4 linked regions of the Homo sapiens genome follow. The protein of the gene in region 4 purifies or fractionates together with the protein of the main gene of each other region. This does not show direct contact. Each region holds a gene or a part of one and is shown on either strand. Other genes may lie near its edges.

Region 1 (3,500 bases), on a different chromosome or scaffold from region 4:
GGACAAAGGTAGAAAACAGTAACAGATGAGGTACAGTCTCAGCCATATGTAAGATACAGCGTTGGCCACACTCTTTACCAAGTGAGATTTAAAGAGTCTCCAAAAACTCAAAAGACATGAAAAAAATCGTGCCACTTTAATGGAGAAATCATATGTGGCTATCAATTTGAATGTATGCAAATTAAGACGGGGGAATGGGGCAAAACGCCATAGCAGCTTTGTCACCATACAGACTAATTTTTTTTCTTCAATAACAGCATTCTCCTCCTAAGCCTAATGGAACTCCCTGGCCTGAATTTGCTTTCACCTCCTGTGTCCATCCCACATTTCACTGCCCAGTCAATTCTTCTTCCTGTTGGAATTCCAATCCACCCTCTCTACTTTTGATATGCACACAATGTGGTCTCATCTGATCCCACTGATCTGCTACCCACTCCTCTCTCCTAAGCCCTCCCCTGAAGTTGCCTTAGACGTCTCCTGTCACAGAACACACTGCTTTGAAATCTTGCTTGCCCAATATCCTTCTCAATAGAGAATACCCTTCAATATGCACTTTCAAATCCCATCCACTCTTCATGTTCAGTTTCAGTTTTACTTCCTGCATGAACTGTCAATGAGTACTTCAATCTATTACTTTTTCTCCTATTTGCTCCTAAAGCATGTGGAGAACTTACAGCATCTTACATTTGATGATATAGCATGTTGTTATTTTTTCCTAACGATCTCATAAATATTACATCAGATTATAAGACCCCTGAGGACAAAGAACTTGTCTTAAATGTTCAAAACTTAAGACAGCCCATATATTAATAAATACACAGTAGGTGTTAAATAAATACCTGTTCATGCATAGAATCTTAGAGGATTCAAGCAGGAAGAAACTTTAGCGATGATGTGATTTAACCCTCTCATTTCATGAATACTGCTTTGAACACTTCCAAACCAGAATTAAATAACATTGCCAATTACCATTTTAGTTTTGTTCTTAAATTAAAATAAAAATCTGAGCCAGTAATCCTATCTATCCTGAGAAAATCACAGGTACACTAAAAATATTATTTACAGTGGTATAAAACTAGAATCAACCTAAGAGTGAAACAGCTGTATTAAGTAAATTATGGCACATAGATACAAATGAATACAGCCAATTACAAAACAAAAAATAAAGCTTTAAGAGAATATGTGTAATGTCAAGAAAAAATTTCATAATGTATTAAGTAGAACCAATTGGTTAGAAAATCACAAACACAAAAAAAATTTAAAAAGAGTAGAAAAATATGTATTAAAATATTAACACGATTATCTTTCTGTATGGAATATTGGTATTGCTTTCTTGGTTTTTTAAAAATTACTGTCATGAACACATTACTTTTAATACTATTAAAAGTTATTTTTAAAATATGATAAAAATGGTTTTAGTGTTTTCCAATTAACTATTATGTTAACATTGGGATACTATAAAACTAACATGAGACAATGAATTTTCAGGTGTCTGAAAACAAAAAACTACCAAAGGCACAATACTGTATTATCTTTTGGTTTATCAGTAGGAAACGGATTTAATATTGATTTTTCTGCATACGTCTTCTTCCTCAACCAGGAAGCAAATGGAGACTTGGGAGTGCACTGATTGCGGCCGCTACCATCTTTAGAGTTTCATTCACAAACAGCGATCTATTTTTACCTCCATATTCTAAACAAGGACAAAGTCCTCACAAGAAGCCTGCAGTCCTTTAATTTAGCCTTTTGATCTACAAAGGACAAAGCACAACTGTTCTCTTTTCTGTCACTAAACTAGGTGTCACACTAATATTTACTCATGTCCACTATACAGAGAATACCATTCATGCAGGTTTTTGGGAAACAAGGCTAAGACTTAACAATTTTCCAAGGATCCAAAGCAAGTGAAATAAGTTCATAAATACTCTGCTCAATATGAGATCATGTATTCAATTAGAAATTTCAAAAGGAAAAGAAAGTAGGTAACTTGGAAAAAGGTTCAAAGAACAAAAAGAATCATATATGCCTTTACGGGTTAAGTTGTAGGAAAAGTTAATACTTGCACAATCAGTAGCAGCACTTGTAAAACCTTTACCATGAAAAGTGGTTCTTCAGATATGCGATGTCGTAAATTTATATAATTTGCATAACTGGCGAAAGTAAAGATCCCTTAATGACAGACATGAATGTACCAAGTTCTAGTGGGAAATCAAACACTAGCTTAATAGTCTGAAAACGGGTCACTTTTTATTTATTTACTTTATTTTTTTGAGATGGAGTTTCGCTCTTGTTACCCAGGCTGTAGTGCAATGGCGTGATCTTGGCTCACTCCAACCTCCGTCTCCCGGGTTCAAGCGATTCTCCTGCCTCAGCCTCCTGAGTAGCTGGGATTACAGGTGTGCGCCAACATTCCTGGATAATTTTTGTATTTTTAGTAGAGATGGGGTTTTGCCATGTTGGCCAGGCTGGTCTCAAACTCCTGACCTCAGGTGATCTGCCTGCCTCGGCCTCCCAAAGTGCTGGGATTACAAGTGTGAACCACCACACCTGGCCAAAACGTGTCACTTTAAAATGACTACAATAAAACATGCTAAGAACTATCAGCATATAAACCAGATTGGTATGGCTATACTTTGTACTGGTTATTTCTAAAGACATATAGGTTCCTGCAGCTCTAGTGGAAGCTGTTCAAGAGTTAACTCTTCTCCCCAAAACAACCTCAGGATACTAAAGTATATAGAGAACCTTCTAATTATCTCTAGATTTTCTCTAGTCCTTAGAGACAGAAGCAACTCTGCCAGTGGGTAAGCTCTGAAATCCTGTAGGGTAGAGTTCCAAACTTCTGACAGGTACTCCCTTCTACAGTTTCTTTGCTTGCACTTTCTAGGAAATAATGCCTGTTGAAAATATATACGCAAAAATAAGAAATGCTTTAATAAAAAATAGATTTTATATTAGCAACCAAAAATTCTAAAAGTAAGAGAGGTAGACAGGATTGTGGGTTTTTTTTCCCCCATCACTGTCACCTGCTTCAAGTCCTGTCCTGCAAGTCCTGCTTAACTGTTGTCCTCCGGTTTGAAATTACTTAGTGAAATCAAGCACACCACACAGGCATTACCTAACACTACTACGTAACACTCAACACCGAAAATAGAAAAGATACAATGTAAGCTCTGACTGGTAACATTATAAAGCAAATTCCAGAAATAATCTGCCAAATATCACCTTCATTTTCTGTCTGCAATCAATTGCTTACCTAGTTTTATTAAGAATTCTCGTTCCAAGTCTTGTACCTGCCTGATGGATTCTTCCAGAGAATTACAGAGTTTGATCTTTGGTCTTAGCAGTTCTAGTGTATCACTGATCATGTAATCTATATCAATAGGAAATGGATGGTCTTTTGTCCAAACCTCCAAACTTTTCTTCCACCAAACATAACGCTGATAACAAATGAAAAATAAATTTAGCTATAAGAAATTAGTAACAAAATATTTTAAAAT
Region 2 (3,500 bases), on a different chromosome or scaffold from region 4:
TGAATAGTTGAAGCAGGAAGAGAAGACTTATATTATCTTGTTTCTTAGGTAGATATTGTATTGGGTAAGAGGTCGTGGGTTGAATTCAATGGACTACATGGAAGTCATTAGTAAAATAGCTTCTGTTTATTGGGTACCACTTTGCATTGGACCTGTTCTAACTGTGGTATGTAAATCACTAACAGGCGAGTATAGTCCCTTTCAGCAGTGAGAAACATTTAAATGCTTTTCTGAACACTGCACAACCACAAAGCCAGGTTTTGAGAACTGTCAATGTTTCCAAAATCTGCTTGCTTTCTGCTATCATGTGCTTGAGGCTTAAGACAAAGTTAAAAGAATTTATAGTATTATTTGGTAGTTTCTGGACCTGGATCATCAGCCTGGAAAGTATCTAAAAATAAATCCCCCGTTTCCCTCTCAAGATTTTGATTTAGTGAATCTTGGTGGGTTCTGTGAGTCTGTATATTAAAAAAATCCAGGTGATTGTTGGTCATCAAACTTTAGTAACCACCAATCTTGTTAATGAAGAGATGAGATGTACTTAACTTCTAAGAGTTATATGCAGTGCATCTAGTCTGAGGTGACCAACACCCTAGGAAAAGACCTGCACAGTCCAGTACAGCAGGCACGCAGGCCACATGAGGCTGTTAAGCACTTGAAATATGGCTGGGCTGAATTGAGATATGCTGTAAGAGTAAAATACATTAGATTTCAAGGGTTTAATACAAAAAAAGGTAAAATAGATTAATAATTTTTATATTGATTTATATGTTAAGATTTTAGATTAATAAAGTACATTAATTTTGTCCTTTTTAAAATTTTCTTGATGTGGCTACTAACACATTTAAAATTACACATGTGGTTTGTATTATATTTCCTTTGGGCCAGCACTGTTTTAGACTATTCAGGAGAAGGCTTTATAATATAAGCCCAGGCACAGTGGCTCATGCCTATAATCCCAGCACTTTGGAAGGCCAAGGCAGGCGGATCATGAGGTCAGGAGTTCGAGACGATCCTGACCAACATGATGAAACCCTGTCTCTACTAAAAATACAAAAATTAGCTGGGCATGGTGGCTGGCGCCTGTAATCCCAGCTACTCGGGAGGCTGAGGCAGGAGAATTGCTTGAACCCGGGAGGCGGAAGTTGCAGTGAGCTGAGATCATGCTACTACACTCCAGCCTGGGCGACAGAGCAAGACTCTGTCTCAAAAAAAAAAAAAGGCTTTATAAAGGAGGTGCAGTGGGACCAAGGCCCTCCTCAGAAAAAAATGAAAAGGATTCCATACTAGAACAGATGTGGAAAGAATGGGTAAGGACAAAGGAATGTTTAAGATATGCTCTGCAGAATACTCTTTAGAATGGAGGGGTTCATTTATAAGAGTATTGGCACTTTGGGAGGCCGAGGCAGGCAGATCACGAGGTCAGGAGATCGAGACCATCCTGGCTAACACGGTGAAACCCCGTCTCTACTAAAAATACAAAAATTAGCCTGGCCTGGTGGCGGGTGCCTGTAGTCCCAGCTACTCGGGAGGCTGAGGCAAGAGAATGGCGTGAACCCAGGAGGCGGAGGTTGCAGTGAGCCAAGATTGCACCACTGCACTCCAGCCTGGGTGACAGAGCAAGACTCTGTCTCAAAAAAAAAAAAAAAAAAAAAAGAGCATTGGTGATCAGGCTAGACAGTTATTATTATGTTATGTTTCAGCCATATTCCGAAATCTTTCGAATACCTCATTTGATTCTTGCAACAATCTTATGAGATGGGTACTCTTGTTACTCATTTTACACTTAATGAAAGGCTTAGAGAGGTTATGTAGTTTGCCATTAACAGCCAGCAGGTAGTAAAGGTAGGTTTCACATTGGGCATTGTGACTCCAAGACTCACCCTTTACCCTCAGGGTTGTGCTACACAAAGATGTTTTGGCCATCCTTGTTGTTGGCCCTAATTAGAGGAAGAAATGGAAAGGGCCCATGTTTCATCCTAATTGATAAAAAGTTTGATATACTTTAGTATTACTAACGATTTAAATTGCTACTTTGTAAGGTTTTAAGACATTAACATGTTTAACATGTTTTAAAACATTAACATCAAGACTGATGATTGAAATGCTAATTCTGCAGAAGTGTCTGGTCTTTGGAATAGAAATCTTTTTTTCTTTCAATTCAACATTTGTAAGTACCTGCAGAATACCTGGCACAGTGCTAGGAGAAGGATTCAGAGACGAATGTGACACATTTTCTTCCTTCAAGGTGTGCTCATAAGTAAGCCATTTATCATTTATGTATTACACTACGTGTTGAAATACTCTGAAAAAATTTTTTTTTTTTTTTTTTGCTGATGTACTTTTCCCCTTTCAGCCAGTAAAAAAGAAGAAAATTAAGCGTGAAATAAAGATTTTGGAGAATTTGAGAGGAGGTCCCAACATCATCACACTGGCAGACATTGTAAAAGACCCTGTGGTGAGTATAGTAGGTGTTAGCAAGGCCCGCCAGAGCTGAGATGGTGTTTGACCTGGAGCACAACTGGCCTCTTTTTGTTCCCTCCCCCAACCCTCATCATTAAGTCCTGCTTTGAAAGTGCTTAATCAGATATACCATTTAACTAGCTTGGGTCTTTCTTTCAAAGAGACCTCCACCCACAGACTATTTCTTATTCTTCTAGGCTAAGAGACTGATAGCACTGGAAACTGAAATGTGTTAATCCATTTTGCAAACTCAGGTCCGATGCCGATGGGCGATGGGCGCATTGTCGGGCTGCCTAGAGCCTGGTGAGACTTCAGCTCCATGTCTTCTGTTTGAAATCCATCCCAAAAATGACCTAAGTGCGGTGATGATCAGAGCGGGGAGGGCTTGTAGCAATAGAGGGTTTCTTACTACTGAGGCGAGGACTGCCAAATTTCACCACGCAGCATCCGCAAACATTGTCCCCATTAAAGCTGTCAGGGCTATTGCTAATGTGTGTTTTTGTTTTTGTTCTTTTCCCCTAGTCACGAACCCCCGCCTTGGTTTTTGAACACGTAAACAACACAGACTTCAAGGTATAATATATAACCAACTGTTTCGGGCTAGTGGGTTTTTAGACCACATAGCCTTTGGGGATGATGCTGTTAGAAGAGCTTGCTTCGCATTTGTTTTTAAAAAGCTTTTCATCCTTACAGTGCAAATTTTAAGATAGAAGAACTCCTATATAAGCAGTGCCCACTTTCTGCATCTTGATATTTTGCCCATTTGTTTAATGTTCTTTTTAATGACCAACACATTGACTTCTCACTACTTAGTTGACAGTTTCTGCTGATGTCCAACCTAATGAAGGCAGTAACACACGTTCACTTAGGATCTGGCCATATGGCAATTCGCTTTAAACAATAGTGTTCAGGAAGAAATATATTGTATGTATAAAAGTAGGGACTGCTTATTTCTTAGGATTCCTCATAAACTGTGGGCTATAGATCTTAAAAGGCAGGGATCGAGGAAGGATAATGTCAAATTCTGCCATAACACA
Region 3 (3,500 bases), on a different chromosome or scaffold from region 4:
TTGTATTTATATTACATTTGTGTGAAACTAAATAGGTCAAAGAATTTTTCCCACTTTAATGGATTCTCATAATGCTGTGAGGCAGGTATTACCATCTGCAATTTACAGTAACAGTCTCAGAGAAACTAGTAACTTCCCTGAAGTCACACAGCTAGCAACTGATGGAGGTAGGAGACTTAGGTACTGTGATGAAAAGACTGTTGCCCTGATTCTTTTTGCCCACTTACCTATTAATTCTCTATTTTTTGCTTCTATTTCCTCTAGCAGTGTCTCTGGAGTAGATGTCATTTTCTCATTATCTGTGGCATAACTTTCCAAAAACTTTCTATATTCTGGATCTAAATAATCATTTGAGGAAACAGAAAATATAATAGACTTTAAACAAAAAAAGAAGACATTATCTACAATACTGATTTATCAAAGAAGATAATTTTTTACTTCGTGGAAGATTAAAAAAAACCAAACCATACCCACAAGGTAGACTATTTAGAGCTTAATTGGTCACTTGCTCTCAGGACTCCTATCACTGATACTCACTATAGGAATCTGGTATAACATGGGGTCAGGAAAAATGAGACGCCATGCATTATAACAGAACCACTAGGGGTATTACATAGTTTGCTTTTAAAAGTCACTGTCCTACTAAACTAAGTTAGGTGTTCCAAAAAGATAAATTAGAGAGAAGTCCTAGATGTGGCACTTGAGGTGATGGGAATTCCTGGAGTTCTCTCCTAGACCTCTAACATCAGAAAGGGTGACACATCTAAGCCATTATATTGCTTGTTTCTATGTGTCACTTGATCAAGTCTTCCAGATCTAAATCTGTAATAAAACCAGTATCACAGCTATGTGTTATTGAGTCCTTACCGTGTTTTCTTTATAAAATACCTGTAATAGTAACAAATGATGGAAATTAAACTAGATGATTCTAAAGTAACAATCTGATATAAAATATGGTCCTAGTCCTTATCCAACATAAAGAGTTGTGTAACAGCTATCTAACATAACATTACAGAGGTCTCAAAATCTGGAGCCAGTGTACCTTAAATGGCAATTATTTTGGTTTTTCAGTTCTTGTATTTCTTTCTTTCTTTCTTTTTTTTTGAGACGGAGTTTTGCTTTTGTTGTCCAGGCTGGAGTGCAATGGTGCGGTCTCAGCTCACTGCAACCTCCGCCTCCCGGGTTCAAGTGATTCTTCTGCCTCAGCTTCCCAAGCAGCTGGGATTACAGGTGCCCGCCACCATGCCTAGCTAATTTTTGTGTTTTTAGTAGAGATGGGGTGTCACCATGTTGGCCAGGCTGGTCTCGAACTCCTGACCTCAGCAACTCTGCCCGCCTTGGCCTCCCAAAGTGCTGGGATTATAGGAGTGAGCCACCGCGCCTGGCCTCAGTTCTTCTATTCCTGTTCAACCTAATACTATGTGTGTAGCTAATTGTATATCCAAAGACCAGAAAATAGGAGTGACAACTTCAGCTACTTTATACAAAGTTACCTGGGTATGGAAATTTTCCCATGACAGTTCAAACCTTCTTCTTTATAAATATAATGGAAACCAAAAGTCAAATAAATAATCATAAAAATGGTGAGGCCTCAAGAAGCACCTGTTAAACTTTGAAACCTGATTTTTTTCCACTATTTTCTTTTTCTTTTTTTTTTGAGATGGAGTTTCGCTCTTGTTGCCCAGGCTGGAGTGCAATGGTGTGATCTCAGCTCACTGCAACCTCCGCCTCCTGGGTTCAAGAGATTCTCCTGCCTCAGCCTCCCGAATAGCTGGGATTACAGGCATGCACCACCATACCCGGCTAATTTTATATTTTTAGTAGAGACAGGGTTTCTCCATGTTGGTCAGGCTGGTATCAAACTCCTGACCTCAGATGATCCGCCCGCCTTGGCCTCCCAAAGTACTGGGATTATAGGCGTGAGCCACCACGCCTGGCCTTTCCACTATCTTCTAATCAATAAACCTATGGTGATTTGTTACTCAATAGTCAACATTATATTGTTCAATGGTTGAAGAATGAAATGCCCTAGCCAAAGAGAGCAGAGATTCTGTGCAAGAAACTCTCTCTAGTCTAACAATTAAGCAAAGCTTCCATCGGCAAATAACATTTCTCACTTACTTTATTTTGTATATTTTCTAATTTAAAATTTTGGGGTCGAATTAACTCTCACAAAGATATTATTTTTAAAAACCCCACAGCAATAGCATTATATAATTAGAGCTATACTGTACCATCATCGATAGTCCCGACTTTGGTATCTCTTTTCTTAGTCTTCTTTTTTGCAGCTTTTTGAAAAGGTGCAAATTCTACTATAGCGGGATATTCCTGACCTGTTTAGAAAAAAAATACCACACTTGCTATAACAAAGAAAATGTCAAAAGTGGATATAAGGGAATCAACCCATTGCTTTCTATGACTCTTTTGATGGCAGTCATCTGAAGAGGGTCTCCCAAAGGCATAAAGCACACTGGCACAACCATAATCAACATACTACAAAAGGAGCCACAAATTCACACTGATAACATAGTGAAACAACACGGCATGAAAGTAAAATATTCATATAAATTCAACTTATAAAATGTGATATTTTAATGTGAAAAAGACCCTACAAACTATTTTTCATTTTAAAATGTTAGAAATCTCCAAAATAGGCAAATCTATAGAGACAGAACGTAGAGTAGTAGCTGCCTGGAGTTTGGGGTAGAAGTGGTGAGAAGAATGAGGAGTGACAACTAATGGGTGGGGTTTCTCTTAGGGGTGATGAACATGTTCTAAATTTAGATTGTGGTGATAGGCTCATAAGCCTATGAATATACTAAAATTCACTGAACTGTATACTTTAAAAGGGTGACTATTTCAGGCATGTGAATTATATCTCAATAAAGCTGTTATTTTTTAAAAGTGTAACTATTTGAGGTGATGTGTTATGTGAGGTGATGAATGTGTTAACTTGATTGTATATATTTCATAATGTATATATGTATACATTATGTATACATTTCATAATGTATATATGTATACAATATGTATACATTTCATAATGTATACATTTCATAATGTATACATATATAAAATTATCACGTTGGGCTGGGCACCGTGGCTTATGCCTATAATCCCAGCATTTTGGGAGGCCGAGATGAGAGGATCACCTGAGGTCAGAAGTTTGAGACCTGCCTGGCCAACATGGTGAAACACTGTCTCTACTAAAAATACAAAAATTAGCTGGGCGTGGTGGCACGTGCCTGCAATCCCAGCTACTCTGGAGGCTGAGGCATGAGAATCACTTGAACCCAGGAGGCAGAGATTGCAGTGAGCCGAGATCATGCCACTGCACTCCAGCCTGGGCGACAGAGTAAGACTCCGTCTCAAAAAAATAAATACATAAAAATAAAAATAAATAAAAATACAAAAATTAGCCAGGCGTGATAGTGCACGCCTGTAATCCCAGCTACTTGGGAGACTGAGGCAGGAGAATCACTTGAACCTGGGAGGCGGAG
Region 4 (2,754 bases):
TCTCTACTAGAAATACAAAAAATTAGCTGGGCATGGTGGCAGGTGCCTGTAATTCCAGCTACTCAGGAGGCTGAGGCAGGAAAATCACTTGAACCCAGGAGGCAGAGGTTGTAGTGAGCCAATATTGCGCCACTGCACTCCAACCCAGGCAACAGAGACTGTCTCAAAAAAAAAATTAAAAAATTAAAAAAAAATTAGCCCCTGCTACTCTGGACACTGAAGAAGGAGTTGGAGGCTGTAATGAGCTATGATCGCACCATGGTACATACTCCAGCCTGGGTGACAGAGCGAGAGTCTGTCTGAAAACACACACACATTCCAAGGTGGCGATAAAACCATCTCCTTCTATTTGTCCACCCTAGGAGCAACCTGGTCCCCACAGCACACAAACCCTAGGTTCTCCTGGCTGAAAGCATCGGAGGTGCCACTGCGGATGGTGAGGAACAGAAAGTTACTAGGGGCGAGGGGACAAGTGAGAAGGCAGTGAACCCAGAACTAGATTTGCATTCCGATCTTGGGTTTATTCAACACAATTCTTCCACTCTACACAACAAAGTACAAACACAATGTCATCTAAAATGCTACAAAGGTATAAAACTCAAAAGAGAAATTTTATAGTACTGACTGTACAATGAAAGCAAAAAAGAAAAAAAATAAAAGCAATGTACATGTTGCCAAGATAACCTGAAAGACCACCATGAACGGCAGGCACAACCATGGCTGCGTGATGACTCCGCAGAGCTGGCTCTCCACTCACTCGCCAATTTCAGAGTACAGTGGTGGGGTGCGGTGTGTGCATCGGTGCACGGACAGACAGAACCACGAGCAGCAACTACCATGGGTGAGAGGATCTTTGAGGGGGTGTGACCCTTGAGGTCAGAAGAGGCCTCGAGAGGCCAGGCCTAACAGGGTTGGCAGCTGCACTAAAGCCTGGGGCAGCTCCCTTTCCAAAAGGACACTGCCCAGCAACAGCAAGGGCACGGCCTGGCCACCATCCCAGGTCATCGGGGAAGGGAAAAGTGTGCTCCCAGGTAAGCAGGGTCAAACCACCCCCAAGAGCCTCACTTTTCCCTGGTGGCTCTGCCACTGAACTGACTCTTAGAAACCGGAAACGGATGAGCTTTCTAGCCAGAAAACCGGAGGGAATCTTGACAGGCACACAGCATCCAAACCAACAGCACTTCTGCAGCCGGGGCCCGGCTGGCAGAGGGGTGCTGCCTGCTGCCTGCAAATCCTGCCAGAGTCAAGGGTTTGCTTTCCTACTGGTCTTCCTTTGGCTAGAAAAGTGACAAAACTGAGCTGGGTGGGGTATAAGTTACAGGGGCGAGAGCTTCAGTGGCCTGTTTATCGGGAGGAGTTGGAGCTGGAGCGGCTCCTGTGGCGGCGGCGGCCCGGGGACCGTGATCTCCGGCGCACGGGGGACCTGCGCCTCGGGGAGCGGGACCTGCGGGAAGAGGAGAAACCACATCAGAGTAGCTCAGGCTGTAGGGGCAAGCTAGCTTCTTTCTGGGCAATTCCCCATAGTTTTACTTTTTGAGATGGAATATCACTCTGTCTCCAGGCCAGAGTGCAGTGGCACGATCTCAGCTCACTGCAACCTCTGCCTCCAGGGTTCAAGCGATTCTCCTGCCTCAGCCTCCCATGCAACTGGGACTACAGGCGCGCGCCACCACGCCCAGCTAATTTTTGTGTGTGTATATATTTATTTTGAGATGGGGTCTCACTCTGTTGCCCAGGCTGAGTGCAGAGGCGCAATCTCGGCCTCCCAGGTTCATGCCATTCTCCTGCCTCAGCCTCCCGAGTAACTGGGACTACAGGCACACGCCACCACGCACAGCTAATTTTGTTTTGTTTTTTTTAGTAGTGACGGGGTTTCACCGTGTTAGCCAGGATGGTCTCGATCTCCTGACCTCGTGTTCCGCCCACCTCGGCCTCCCAAAGTGCTGGGATTACAGGCGTGAGCCACCATGCTAGGCCTAATTTTTATATTTTTTGTACGGATGGGGTTTCACCATGTTGGCCAGGATGGTCTCGACCTCCTGACCTTGTGATCCACCCACCTCAGCCTCCCAAAGTGCTGGGATTACAGGCGATTGCTACCACACGTGGCAAAGTTTTACCTTTTTTTTTTTTTTTTTTTGAGATGGAGTCTCACTCTGTTGCCCAGGCTGGAGTGCAGTGGCATGATCTTGGCTCACTGCAAGCTCCACCTCCCGGGTTCACGCCATTCTCCTGCCTCAGCCTCCCGAGTAGCTGGGACTACAGGCACCCACCACCACGCCCGGCTAATTTTTTTGTATTTTTAGTAGAGACAAGGTTTCACTGTATTAGCCAGGGTGGTCTCGATCTCCTAACCTCGTGATCTGCCCGCCTCAGCCTCCCAAAGTGATTACAGGCCTGAGCCACCATGCCTGGCAGAAGTTTTACTTTTTAATACTAGAAGTTGGGACAGGTCCCACCTGATGGGCCTGCCCTGAGCTCTTGGGAACGGGTGCTTGTGAGACCCAAGGCAGAAGCCCAGGCTTTCCTCCTCTTCCCCAAAGGCTGAAAGCACAGCTCACCACCGGCAACGGAAGACCAAACTGTGGCCTCTGCCGAGGGATTACCACCCCCGCCCCACAACTCTTCTGACCCCCAACTTCTCCCTCTCCTAGCTCTTCTTGTTAGCTCAGAAAAAGGTGGGCCTGCACCTGGGCTCACAGGTCTAGTGGTCTCCTAGGAAGGCCACACCACGCCACTGCCCAGACTCAGAAA

What was found. The genes of interacting proteins can lie anywhere in the genome.
Region 1: the proteins of RNPS1 (region 4) and UPF2 purify together in Homo sapiens (co-immunoprecipitation; 5 studies listed by BioGRID and IntAct, with this or other methods). This does not show direct contact.
Region 2: the proteins of RNPS1 (region 4) and CSNK2A1 purify together in Homo sapiens (affinity purification with mass spectrometry; 4 studies listed by BioGRID and IntAct, with this or other methods). This does not show direct contact.
Region 3: the proteins of RNPS1 (region 4) and UPF3B purify together in Homo sapiens (co-immunoprecipitation; 5 studies listed by BioGRID and IntAct, with this or other methods). This does not show direct contact.

The regions. Positions count from the first base shown.
Region 1 is NC_000010.11:11,948,810-11,952,309, forward strand, and holds part of UPF2 (regulator of nonsense transcripts 2), read right to left. Parts: intron 3,441-3,500; coding exon 3,257-3,440; intron 1-3,256. UniProt on the Homo sapiens protein: Involved in nonsense-mediated decay (NMD) of mRNAs containing premature stop codons by associating with the nuclear exon junction complex (EJC).
Region 2 is NC_000020.11:498,791-502,290, reverse strand, and holds part of CSNK2A1 (casein kinase II subunit alpha), read left to right. Parts: intron 1-2,356; coding exon 2,357-2,458; intron 2,459-2,985; coding exon 2,986-3,036; intron 3,037-3,500. UniProt on the Homo sapiens protein: Catalytic subunit of a constitutively active serine/threonine-protein kinase complex that phosphorylates a large number of substrates containing acidic residues C-terminal to the phosphorylated serine or threonine.
Region 3 is NC_000023.11:119,842,964-119,846,463, forward strand, and holds part of UPF3B (regulator of nonsense transcripts 3B), read right to left. Parts: intron 2,334-3,500; coding exon 2,235-2,333; intron 339-2,234; coding exon 228-338; intron 1-227. UniProt on the Homo sapiens protein: Involved in nonsense-mediated decay (NMD) of mRNAs containing premature stop codons by associating with the nuclear exon junction complex (EJC) and serving as link between the EJC core and NMD machinery.
Region 4 is NC_000016.10:2,252,620-2,255,373, forward strand, and holds the end of RNPS1 (RNA-binding protein with serine-rich domain 1), read right to left. Parts: intron 1,445-2,754; coding exon 1,345-1,444; coding exon of another isoform or gene 1,278-1,344; 3' UTR 501-1,277; downstream 1-500. UniProt on the Homo sapiens protein: Part of pre- and post-splicing multiprotein mRNP complexes. Auxiliary component of the splicing-dependent multiprotein exon junction complex (EJC) deposited at splice junction on mRNAs.